Linked DNA regions of Homo sapiens: region 1 is linked to region 2. A link means that fine-mapping ties the variant in region 2 to the expression of a gene that starts in the linked region. Tissue or cell type: whole blood. Region 2 holds a variant in brackets; the other region holds the start of a gene. All regions are shown on one strand. Distances are from middle to middle.

Evidence for each region. PIP is the estimated chance that this variant, and not a neighbour inherited with it, causes the effect.
Region 1: ASNS starts here. The variant in region 2 is the best candidate, but not a certain one, in a credible set for the expression of ASNS in whole blood (TOPMed, PIP 0.66).

The regions. Positions count from the first base shown.
Region 1 is chr7:97,870,242-97,875,467 of GRCh38, forward strand. ASNS (asparagine synthetase (glutamine-hydrolyzing)) reads right to left here and starts at 2,167. Exons shown (of 13, transcript NM_001673.5): 1 at 2,110-2,167. All of the region lies in intron 7 of CZ1P-ASNS (CZ1P-ASNS readthrough), which reads right to left. RefSeq lists silencers at 1,889-1,998, 2,309-2,398 and an enhancer at 2,048-2,763.
Region 2 is chr7:97,920,557-97,925,782 of GRCh38, forward strand. The region is part of intron 3 of CZ1P-ASNS (CZ1P-ASNS readthrough); the gene reads right to left. It also overlaps a transcript of ASNS not described here. Among named protein-coding and RNA genes, the nearest start is that of MIR5692A1, 40 kb to the right of the region's middle. The variant G/A (reference allele first, on the strand shown) is at 2,919.

The sequences.
Region 1 (5,226 bases), 50 kb before region 2:
CACAGAGGTCCAGATACATTCCGTTTTGAGAATGTCAATGGATACACCAAAAACAAGATGTTTTAATTAAAACATCTCTAACTTGAAAAATAACTATTTTGGTGTTTTTTTTAAAAAAACTGCGAATTGCAGCAAATGCCCAAATAGTTTGGGATAAACACCCTAAGGAAAAAATATACATTCAAGTTGCATAAGTCACTTTGAGCTATTCTTTGATGATATTTCATTTATATCTAAAAGAACCAAAGGTTTAGCTGGCTTTTCCGGAAAACCAGAACCAAATAATATATGGTTAGAATGAAAATCATCTCAAGCAATTTGGAAATGAAGTACCACATGTCCTATGCTGTCTCTTCCATGCACTTGACCAAATAGCCCAAATAGCCTATAACAAATTATTTGAGATTTACTGGAAAAATTCCATAAGATTTAAATGAGATGACTACTAATAAGCCATCTGCCTTTGACTCTATATCAATTTAAAACGGGTTAGGAAAGTGCTTTGAAAATCAAGTATGGTCATCAGGGAATCAGTTACCTAAGTCTTCTTAACGCTGCTTAGTGAATCCCTGTATTAATCCTGCTATAATAAATACATTCTAACCACTAAACTGGAGGGGAAAAAGGGAGAACAAAGAGGCATGTAAAGTACACTTATTTTTTCTAGTAGGAAAAAGCCAATTAAAACTATAACCTATTATTTTTATTGGAATCAGTCTTATAGGAGGGCAAAGTTCCTACTGCCGCTACCTGTTCTCAATATTTTTCTTATTTCTTCCTAAACTTCTAGAACAGTGCTGTCCAATAAATATATATGTAAGCCACATATGTAATTTTAAATATACTAGTAGCCCCATTAAAAGAAAAAGGTGAAATTAATTTTAAATAAACTTAACTCAGTATGTCCCAAATAGTAACATTTTAACATATATGTAATCAATATAAAATATTATCGAGCAGATATTTTACACTGTTCTTCCTACTCCAACGACAAAATCCAGTGTATTTAACACAATACATCTCAGTTAGGACTAGCCAGCACTTCAAGTGCTCAACAGTTACAGGTGGCTAGCGCCTACCGAACTGGACATGGCAGTTTCAGTGCATTTAATTTCTATTCCACTTAGTGCTACTTACAACTTCACCCTCTCCCTTTACTTTTATATTAAGATCTCAGTAAGTAACCAACTACAGACAGGTTCAAGCCCTACTTTACCTCTAATTACTCTTACAGCAATGCTATGAATCATGATTTAAAATTTAAAAAAAAAAACTGCTGTTAAATTATTAGTCAAGCGCCCAGGGCAATGGACAGTAAAGAAATAATGTAGGCCACGGGCCGAGATGAAAACTGTCCTTTTTATTTAAAGCTATAACAATCATCTGAAGCCAGCCCTGCAAAATGACAGCCATTGAAAAAGGCATGCTAGTTCTTTTGCCTTTTTCTGTACTTGGTCGCCTGTGTCCCTAAACAGACCTCTTCTCGGCAGGGTTTGCTCAGCAAGTCACTTGATGAGTCTTGCAGTCTACAGAGACAGGTGGGGACTGGTGGGGATGGCGGGGTGAGAGGGGAGGAGGAGGGTGAGCGGTCCAGGTGAGGAGGGGGGCAGTTGAAGGTGAAAGCAGACACCGAGACGGTGATAAGGCCGCAGTCTCTTCCTAGATCAGGACCACGCGACACCTGACTGCGCCCTGGCCACGAGCACGATCCGACCCGTCCGCCGCAGGGACCCGGACCGCGAAAATGTCCACAGGCTTCGACGCCACATAGTAAAAAAAAGTACACATATAACATTTACAGGGGCTCAAACTGCCGCTGCCTCCTCTCCGGAGCGGTCCGGCCTGCCGGCCGCGGTTCCCTCTCGATGCTTCAGGGAACCAGGACAGAAAGGTCCTTCCGCTAGCTGTCAGGTGCGTAACAATCGCTAGGCGTCCGCCCCGCCCTCCCTACCGCAGGAGCCGCAGCATCAGCAGGCGCCCGCGAACCGCGTCTGCCGGGTGCCAGGCTGAAGACCGCATCCTCCACCCCTTCCTTCCGGAGCAGCCCCAGGGCACGCGAGGAGGATGCTGGCGCGGGGCGCAGGGCACGGGGCGCAGGACCCGGCTCACCTGGGCGTAAGCAGGTCAGGGTGATGTGGCGGGCTGAGGCCAGGGATGTGGACAGCTTGACGGGCGGCGAGGCCGCTGGCGCTTATACCGACCTGGCTCCTGTAACGCGTGCGGGAAGTTTCATCATGCCTGCGAGGACCAACCAGCGCGCACAGGGGCGGGGCCGCGGGGTGTCCGGGGCGGAGCAGGACTAAGTGGGGCGGCGGAAGGGCGCAAGGAGGAGCTCTTTTGTTTCCAGCGCCTTGCGTCTCAGTGCGCCTGTTTAAGGATAGCCTCAGAGCTCCGCCCAGGCTACCTGCTGTTCTGACAATTAGGGAGGCTTCTGAACTTGGTTTGTTCTTCGGGAAATCATCACCGTTTTTTTGTTGCACTGCCGTCTGATTTATTATGCAGTGCAGAGAAAAGCTTGTCCTAAGAAACTGATGCGTGAGGCCTAAAATGTCCTTATAAGATCTATTAATAAATCGGGGCCAGGAGCGGTGGCTCACGCCTGTAATCCCAACACTTTGGGAAGCCAAGGCAAGAGGATCACTTGAAACCAGGAGTTCAAGACCAGCCTGGGAAACACAGCGAGATCACATCTCTATAAAAATTGGTGGCACACCATGGTAGTCCCAGCAACTCAGGAGGCTGAGGCAGAAGGATAGTTTGAGCCCAGGCGTTTGAGGCTGAGGTGAGCTCAACTCCAGCCTGGGCGACAAAGGGAGACCCCCATCTCTAAAACAATAAAATCTAAATCTAATTGATACATGAAGCCAAAATACATCAGTGGTCCTTAAACATTTTAAGTACAAAGATTCCTTTTAGAATCTCAAAAAGGATTTTGTCAACTTGCCTCCACAAGATGATTATGTGCTTTTAAGTATCTCTTTGATGAAGAAAAGACATCACGATTTTTAAAAAGTATCATAACACTCTTAAATCGTATTTTACTAATTACATCAGCACCGAAATAAATTGAGAAATAGTAAAATTATATGTGCACGACCTACTAAGATCAGACTACAGTCAATGCTTGGAGAGCATGCAGGTTTGATATCCCCATACAACGCATTCCTGACTAAATCAAAAACGTCAACAATTTAAAATCCCTAAGAACAGAAGATGGAGTAGTCGCTTAGTAGTTACAGGCAAGAGCAAAGATGAGAGATGACTTGTTCTAAGGTTCATTGTTGCTGGAAAGTTTTCAGTATCAAACAGACTTTGCTGTATCCTAATTGACGTACTTTAAACCTGAGAGCAATGTGGGAAAGTAGGTCTTCTATCTACATTTTACAAATGAAAAAATAAGACTCAGAAAAGTTGAGGGATTTATCCAAACACAGCTTCACAACAGTAGAGAACTGAGTCATAATCTGTGTAAACCCAGAGCCCATTTCCCGTAGCATCTTGCCTATGTAGTGAAAGACAGGTTCCCCTGCTTGGTGTGTTACCTAGTGTGCTTCCTTGTGCTGCGTATCTCCTGCTTGTCCGTCCAGAGCTCTACACTTCTCCACCTCACTTTCTATCCTGGCTCCCTTGCCCTCCTCTTTCAGGGAGAGTGTGCAAAGGCAGACATTTCAAGGAGATGCAAAAGGTGAAATTAAAATTGCTAATGAAGTTTTGGCACCATTGTCATTGATAACATCTTATCAGGAGACAGGGTTTTGAGATCAACCGGTCTGACCAAAGTTTATTAGGTGGGAATTTTCTCTTCCTAATAAGCCTGGGAGTGCTATGGGAGACTGGAGTTTATTTCACCTCTGCAGTCTCGACCATAAGAGACAGGTACGCCCCGGGGGGCCAGTTTAGAGACCTACCCCTAGGTGCGCATTCTCTTTCTCAGGGACGTTCCATGCTGAGAAAAGGAATTCAGCGATATTTCTCCCATTTGCTTTTGAAAGAAGAGAAATATGGTTCTGTTCTGCCTGGCTCACCGGCGGTCAGAGTTTAAGGTTATCTCTCTTATTCCCTGAACAATTGCTGTTATCCTGTTCTTTTTTCAGGGTGCCCACATTTCATATTGCTCAAACACACATGCTGTATAATTTGTGTACTTAACGCAATTATTACAGGTCCTGAGACGATATACATCCTTCTCGGCTGACAGGATTAAGAGATTAAAGTAATGACAGGCATAGGAAATCACAAGGGTATTGATTAGGGAAGTGATAAGTTTAGTCCATGAAATCTTTACAATTTATGTTTAGAGATTGCAGTGAAGGCAGGCATAAGAAATTACAAAAGTATTAATTTGGGGAACTAATAAATGTCCATAAAATCTTCATAATCCACGTTCTTCTGTCATGGCTTCAGCTGGTCCCTCCGTTTGGGGTCCCTGACTTCCCGCAACACAGCACAGTGCCTGGCACAAAAGAGTTGCTCAATAAATACATCAGGATGAATAGATAAATACACGGATAGGCACTTTGAACTACAGATGAGCTTAAATACTTTGTGTTTTTCTTAGTCAAACATGTGCAATTAAGCATGTGATAAATGTTATGATGACCACACGTGTGTCTTGCCTGATGTTCTTTGCAATCACTAAATGAAGTCAATTGTGCCTGTTTTGACAGTTCTATTTTCAACCTAATGATCTGTTTATTTTAACTTCTGGCTGTTGGCTTTGTTTGGGTTTGTTAGCCTGACGAAGTGGTAGATATTGGTATTTGCTCTTTTGTTTAAATGTCACGAACTTTAAAAATGCCTTTGCTTTTGGGAAGAAACCCTAGTTAGGACACCCTAGCGGTCAGGATGATTTGGGTTCTGGTGCAGTAACGACAATCCCCAAATCTCAGTGGCTCCATGCAGTGAGGTATTTGTTTGTTTTTGAGACAGGGTCTCACTCTGTCACCCAGACTAGAGTGCAGTGGTGCAATCTCAGCTCACTGCAACCTCTGCCTCCCAGACTCAAGTGATTCTCCTGCCTCCTGAGTAGCTGGGATTACAGGCCCATGCCACCACTGTCTGGCTAATTTTTGTACTTAGTAGAGACAGGATTTCACCATGTTAGCCAGGCTGGTCTTGAACTCCTGACCTCAAATGATCCACCCGCCTTGGCCTCCCAAAGTTCTGGGATGACAGGCATGAGCCACCATGCCTGGCCACAGTGAGGCTTATTCTTGGTCACGTTGC
Region 2 (5,226 bases):
GTGGGTAACCTGCCCCCTTCCAGCTGGGGCCAAATAGAAGGGGGAAAGGCTGCCCCCAGAATACAGGGCTCTCAGAGGCCCTGGGGATCTGTGCTGGCAGTCAGGAGGACTGTCACCTCAGTGCAGTTGCCTGCAAGGAGGGCTGTGTAGGAAGCTGCATGTTGCTCAGAGAACAAAAAAAGGAAATTAAATGCACCATCTGGTTATTAGCAAGAGCTTTTGAGACAGACACTTAAATATGCATGCCTAGACATTATAAAACTTGGGGGAAATGTTAATTTCAATAACGCCACTTCTTGTGCTTGCAGAAACCATTCTTTTTTCTCCCTTCCTAGTAATTTGGGGGCTCCATCCCTCAGAGTGGCAGCGCCAAGACAGCCGGCCTCACTGGGTTTTGTAAGCTGTGTAAGGTGAGATCCCAAGCCCTTGCCTGGAGACCCATCTTAGGAAAATGTTAGAACAGGGCAACAAGTTGCCATTTCCTCCCTCCTTTCTCTTCCCCATACAAAAATCAGAAAGCACACTAGCCCAGTGCCCAGCCACAGTGGTGAGGAAACCCCACTCAAAATCCTGGGTTGTGCCCCTGATGCCAAAGATCTGCAAAATTGGGACTCACCTGCTGCAACCCTAGCCCAGACTTGTGTACATTTCAGGGGTGGCTGGACTCATGGCTGCCTGGGACGTCAGGGTGGTACAAAGTACTCTTAATCTAAGACTGTCGGGGTACAAAGATAAGCATTTTTTTCCCTTTTCTTGAGAGCCAGATGGTAAATAGTTCAGCTTTGCAGGCCATAGGTCTCTGTCCCAACTATTCAACTCTCTATTGTAGCAGGAAAGCAGCCACAGACAATATGCACTGAAATGGGTGTGGCTGTATTCCAATAAAACTTTATTTGTGTGAACAGGCAGGGGGCTGGTTGTGGCGTGTGGGCTACAGCCTGCCTCCTCTGCTACAGCATGATCTCCAAGGACCGATCCATCTTGTAGACCAGCAGCTGGCACACAGGAGCTGCTCAGATACTTGAAGGAGGAATGGAGAAGGCAAGCAGCCCCCAGTGTGCAGACGTGAGGGTCTCCCAGCAGCACCATCCTTTGCCATCTCATGCCGAGGGACAAAGCCAGAGCAGGGCTCTCCACCAAGGCTGGGCTCTCCTCCAAGGAAATGTGATAACAAGACAGAAAGCACTGTGGAAGGATAGGGGCTTTGGAGTCCCACAAACCACAGTTTGCAAGACCAGGAGCATCCTGCACTTCCTTGCACACATCCTGGGTGGGTGCCGGAGCATCTAGACTTAGAGTGAATCTTTTCCCCCTCCTCCCCCAACTGGTCTCCATTACACTTCCAGCAACAATGTAGTGTACATACACAATGGAATACTATTCAGCCTTCAAAAAGAAGGAAATCCTGCCATTTGAGACAACATGGATGAGCCTGGAGGATATTATGTTAAGTGAAATAAGCCAGGCACAAAACGACAAATACCACATGATCTCACTTATATGTGAAATCTAAAAAAGTTGAACTCGGCCAGGCATGGTGGCTCATGCCTGTAATCCCAGCACTTTGGGAGGCTGAGGCCAGCAGATTGCTTGAGTCCAGGAGTTCGAGACCAGCCTGCATAACATAGCAAGACCCCATTTCTACAAAAAAATACAAAAATTAGTGGAGCGTGGTGGTGCATGCCTGTACTCCCAGATACTCAGGAGGCCGAGGTGGGAGGATTGATTGAGCTTGGGAAGTCAAGGCTGCAGTGAGCAAAGATCACACCCCTGCACTACAGCCTGGGCAATAGAATGAGATTGTCTCAAAAAAAAAAGGATGAAAAAGAAAAGAAAAAAGTTGAATTCACAGAAGCAGAGTAGAATGATGGTTGCCAGGGTGGGGAAGTGGGCAGATGCCAAAGGACACAGAATGTCATTTTTAGAGAGGAAGAATAAGTTCAGGATATCCATGGGACAACATGGTACCTATAGTTAATAACAACATAACATACACTTGGAAATCACTAAGAGAGCAGATTTTTTAAGTGTTCTCACCATAAAAAAATAAGTCTGGGAGGTGATGTTATTTAGCTTGATTTAGCCATTTTGTAACGTATACATACTTCAATCACATCATGTTGTACCCTCTTGTACATAATTTTTGTCAATTAAATAAATTCAACAACTCCAAAAAACAAGACATTCTTTTTACAAAATAATTATTAAAAATAAAATTCAGAATTCTATTTTATTTATTTATTTATTTTTGAAACAGAGTCTCGCTCTGTCACCCAGGTGGCTGAAGTGCAGTGGTGTGATCTCGGCTGACTGCAACCTCTGTCTCCCAGGTTCAAATGATTCTCCTGCCTCAGCCTCCCAAGCAGCTGGGATTACAGGTGTGTGCCATCACACCTGGCTAATTTCTGTATTTTTAGTAGAGACAGTTCCGCCATGTTGGCTAGGCTGGTCTCGAACTCCTGACCTTAGGTGATCCGCCAGCCTCGACCTGCCAAAGTGCTGGGATTACAGGTGTGAGCCACTGCGCCTGGACAGAATATAAAAGATTGTTTAATTCAACTAAAACATTAAAACATAGATTATTTCTATAAGTGGTAATTGTTCTAACACGTTTTGGTCAAAATAGTCTCCTTACTCATCCACAATTAAGTGGTTAACTGACATTTGATTGGATTTTGATAAAGTTTTCAAATCATGATTGACTTTTCCAATGTGTTTGAAAATATTTCATAAAAATTAATATTTAAAAATGGTCAGGCATGGTGGCTCATGCCTGTAATCCCAGCACTTTGGGAAGCCAAGGTGGGCCGATCACTTGAGGTCAGGAGTTTGAAAGCAGCCTGGCCAAACCTCATCTCCACTAAAAATACAAAAGTTAGTCAGGCATGGTGGCACGCACCTGCATTCCCAGCTACTTG[G/A]GAGGCTGAGGGAGGAGAATCCTTTGAACATGGGAGGTGGGTTCCCCAGGCTTAGAGCAAAACCCCCATCTTGTCCGTCTCCACTCTCATCCCAGGCAATCACGGTCATTTCCACAGCCTCAACCACTGTCTACCTGGGATGCCTCCCAAGCCCAAGTCTCCAGCCCAAACCTGCCTTCCTAGCCCCAGACCCATCTGTCCTGGCACACGTTGCCCCCTGGGTCCCAAGCAACCTCAGCCAATGAGTCCAACGTCAACTTCCTGTCCTTGCCTGACACTGTCAGCCCTGAGATCAGACTTGACCATTCACCTCCAGTACCTGATAGGTCCGTCAGTCCTTTGGAACATATCCCACGAATATTCCCTAAACCAGGCACCGGACTCCACACATCAACACCGTCATGTGAGTCACCAGCATCCCTGGCAGGGACCCCTGTCCCAGCCTCCAACTCATCTCCTTCCTGTCCCTTGAGTTCTGTGTCACATTCCAGAGGCCACAAGAAGAAAAATGACAACCTTAATGAAATTAAAAGAATTGAGAAGACATTTCCCTATGGTCCAAAGTCTTTCCAACTGAGAAACACATATCAAGATCCGGCCTGCCAACCCTGCGGTTAAATGTTCCTGAAATAATTAAAGCCCAGGGCAACACAGCCCGCACTCCACAAGTACTCCCAGCACAGTAAGACTTGCTTCTCTGGAGGGGCTTGAAATGTCCAGTGTGTACCCTGCCCCTCTCTGTCGTAGCTAACAGGAATGTGCTTCATGTCTTCTTCCTGCTCAAAGGACTGTCCACCAACATGCGCAGGTAGCACTTTCGGCCAGGGGGGGATGCGAGAACTTCCCACCATTTCCCACTTATGCACTGCATTCCTCAGGAGCCTGCCTCACAAATTACAAGAGCGCCACGGCAGACACACCACGTTCCAGTGGGTGGCCATGTCTTCATGTCAGCTTGAAAGATCGTCACCAGGGAAATATCTATATCTCGGCAGAGAAAGCTTCAGCCTGTGTAGTCCAGCTGTGCTCAAATGGAAATCCAGAAACCCAGATGTTGGTCCAAACACCCTGTCTCGGACAGCCAGCTCTGCAGGTCCCCAGCGTGGGAGTGAACTGGGTGGGCCACCTACCCTGCCTGCCCACATCCCTGCTTCCTGGAATCCTGGACCCTGAGAACCAGGGGGATGTGGTGGGGAACAGGCAAGTCTTGTGCAGAAAGCCAAGATGCCACCCAAATCCACTCTGCAGTCTAGGTGGGTGATATTCTGGTCTGCACCACACCAGTGCATGAGGGGATGGAGGATGGAGTCTAGACAAGCCAAATGTAAAAAGATATTGCCCAAGTATTTTGTGCTTTGTCTGTGTTACAATGCTATGCCCAGCCCAGCGTGGTGGCTCACACCTGTGATCTCAGCACCTTGGGAGGCCGAGGCAGGCGGATCACCTTAGGTCAGGAGTTTGAGACCAGCCTGGACAACATGGTGAAACCCCATCTCTACTAAAAATACAAAAATTAGCCAGGTGTGGTGGTGGGCACCTGTAATCCCAGCTACTCGGGAGGCTGAGGCAGGAGAATCACTTGAGCCCAGGAGGTGGAGGTTGCAGTGAGCAGAGATCATGCCACTGCACTCCAGCCTGGGCAACAGAGTAAGACTCCATCTTTAAAAAACATAAAAATAAATAAATGCTATGCCCAGCATTTTCCATGTACTGTCTTATTATCTCAGTAAATCCCATATAACCTTCCTATGAAAGTGTATCTCATTTATCTCCATTTTATAGATGAGAAAACTGAGGTCCCTGGAGTAGTATTAATTTTCCAAGACCGCATTGCTCATAAAGGGTACAGCAGGGACCCAAGCTCGACACTCTCACCCTCAAACATTTCCACAAATGTAGACCAATGGCTCTCAACTGGGGTGGTTTTGCTCACGTACCACTCCCTTGCTCCATGACATTTGAAACCATCTGGAGACATCTGGGGTAGCCATAGCTGGGAGGGTAGAGTGGCACCTAGAGGATGGAGACCAGAGATGCTGCTAACCATCCTACAATACACGGGACGGCCCCACCACCACCACCATGAATGGTCTGACCCCAAGTGTTGTGACTGTGCCAAAGCTGAGAAACCCAGGTTTCTCCTCAGCAAGAAGGGAAAATACCTGCAACGTGGATGCACCTCTACAGGAGCCCCAGGCTGACAATAACCTTCCTGATCTGGTTTCAACCCTGGATGCTTTTACCTGGTGCGTTAATCAGGGATTTCAGGGACTCCAGTGAGTTATCACCCTTGAATGCTCGGTTCTGC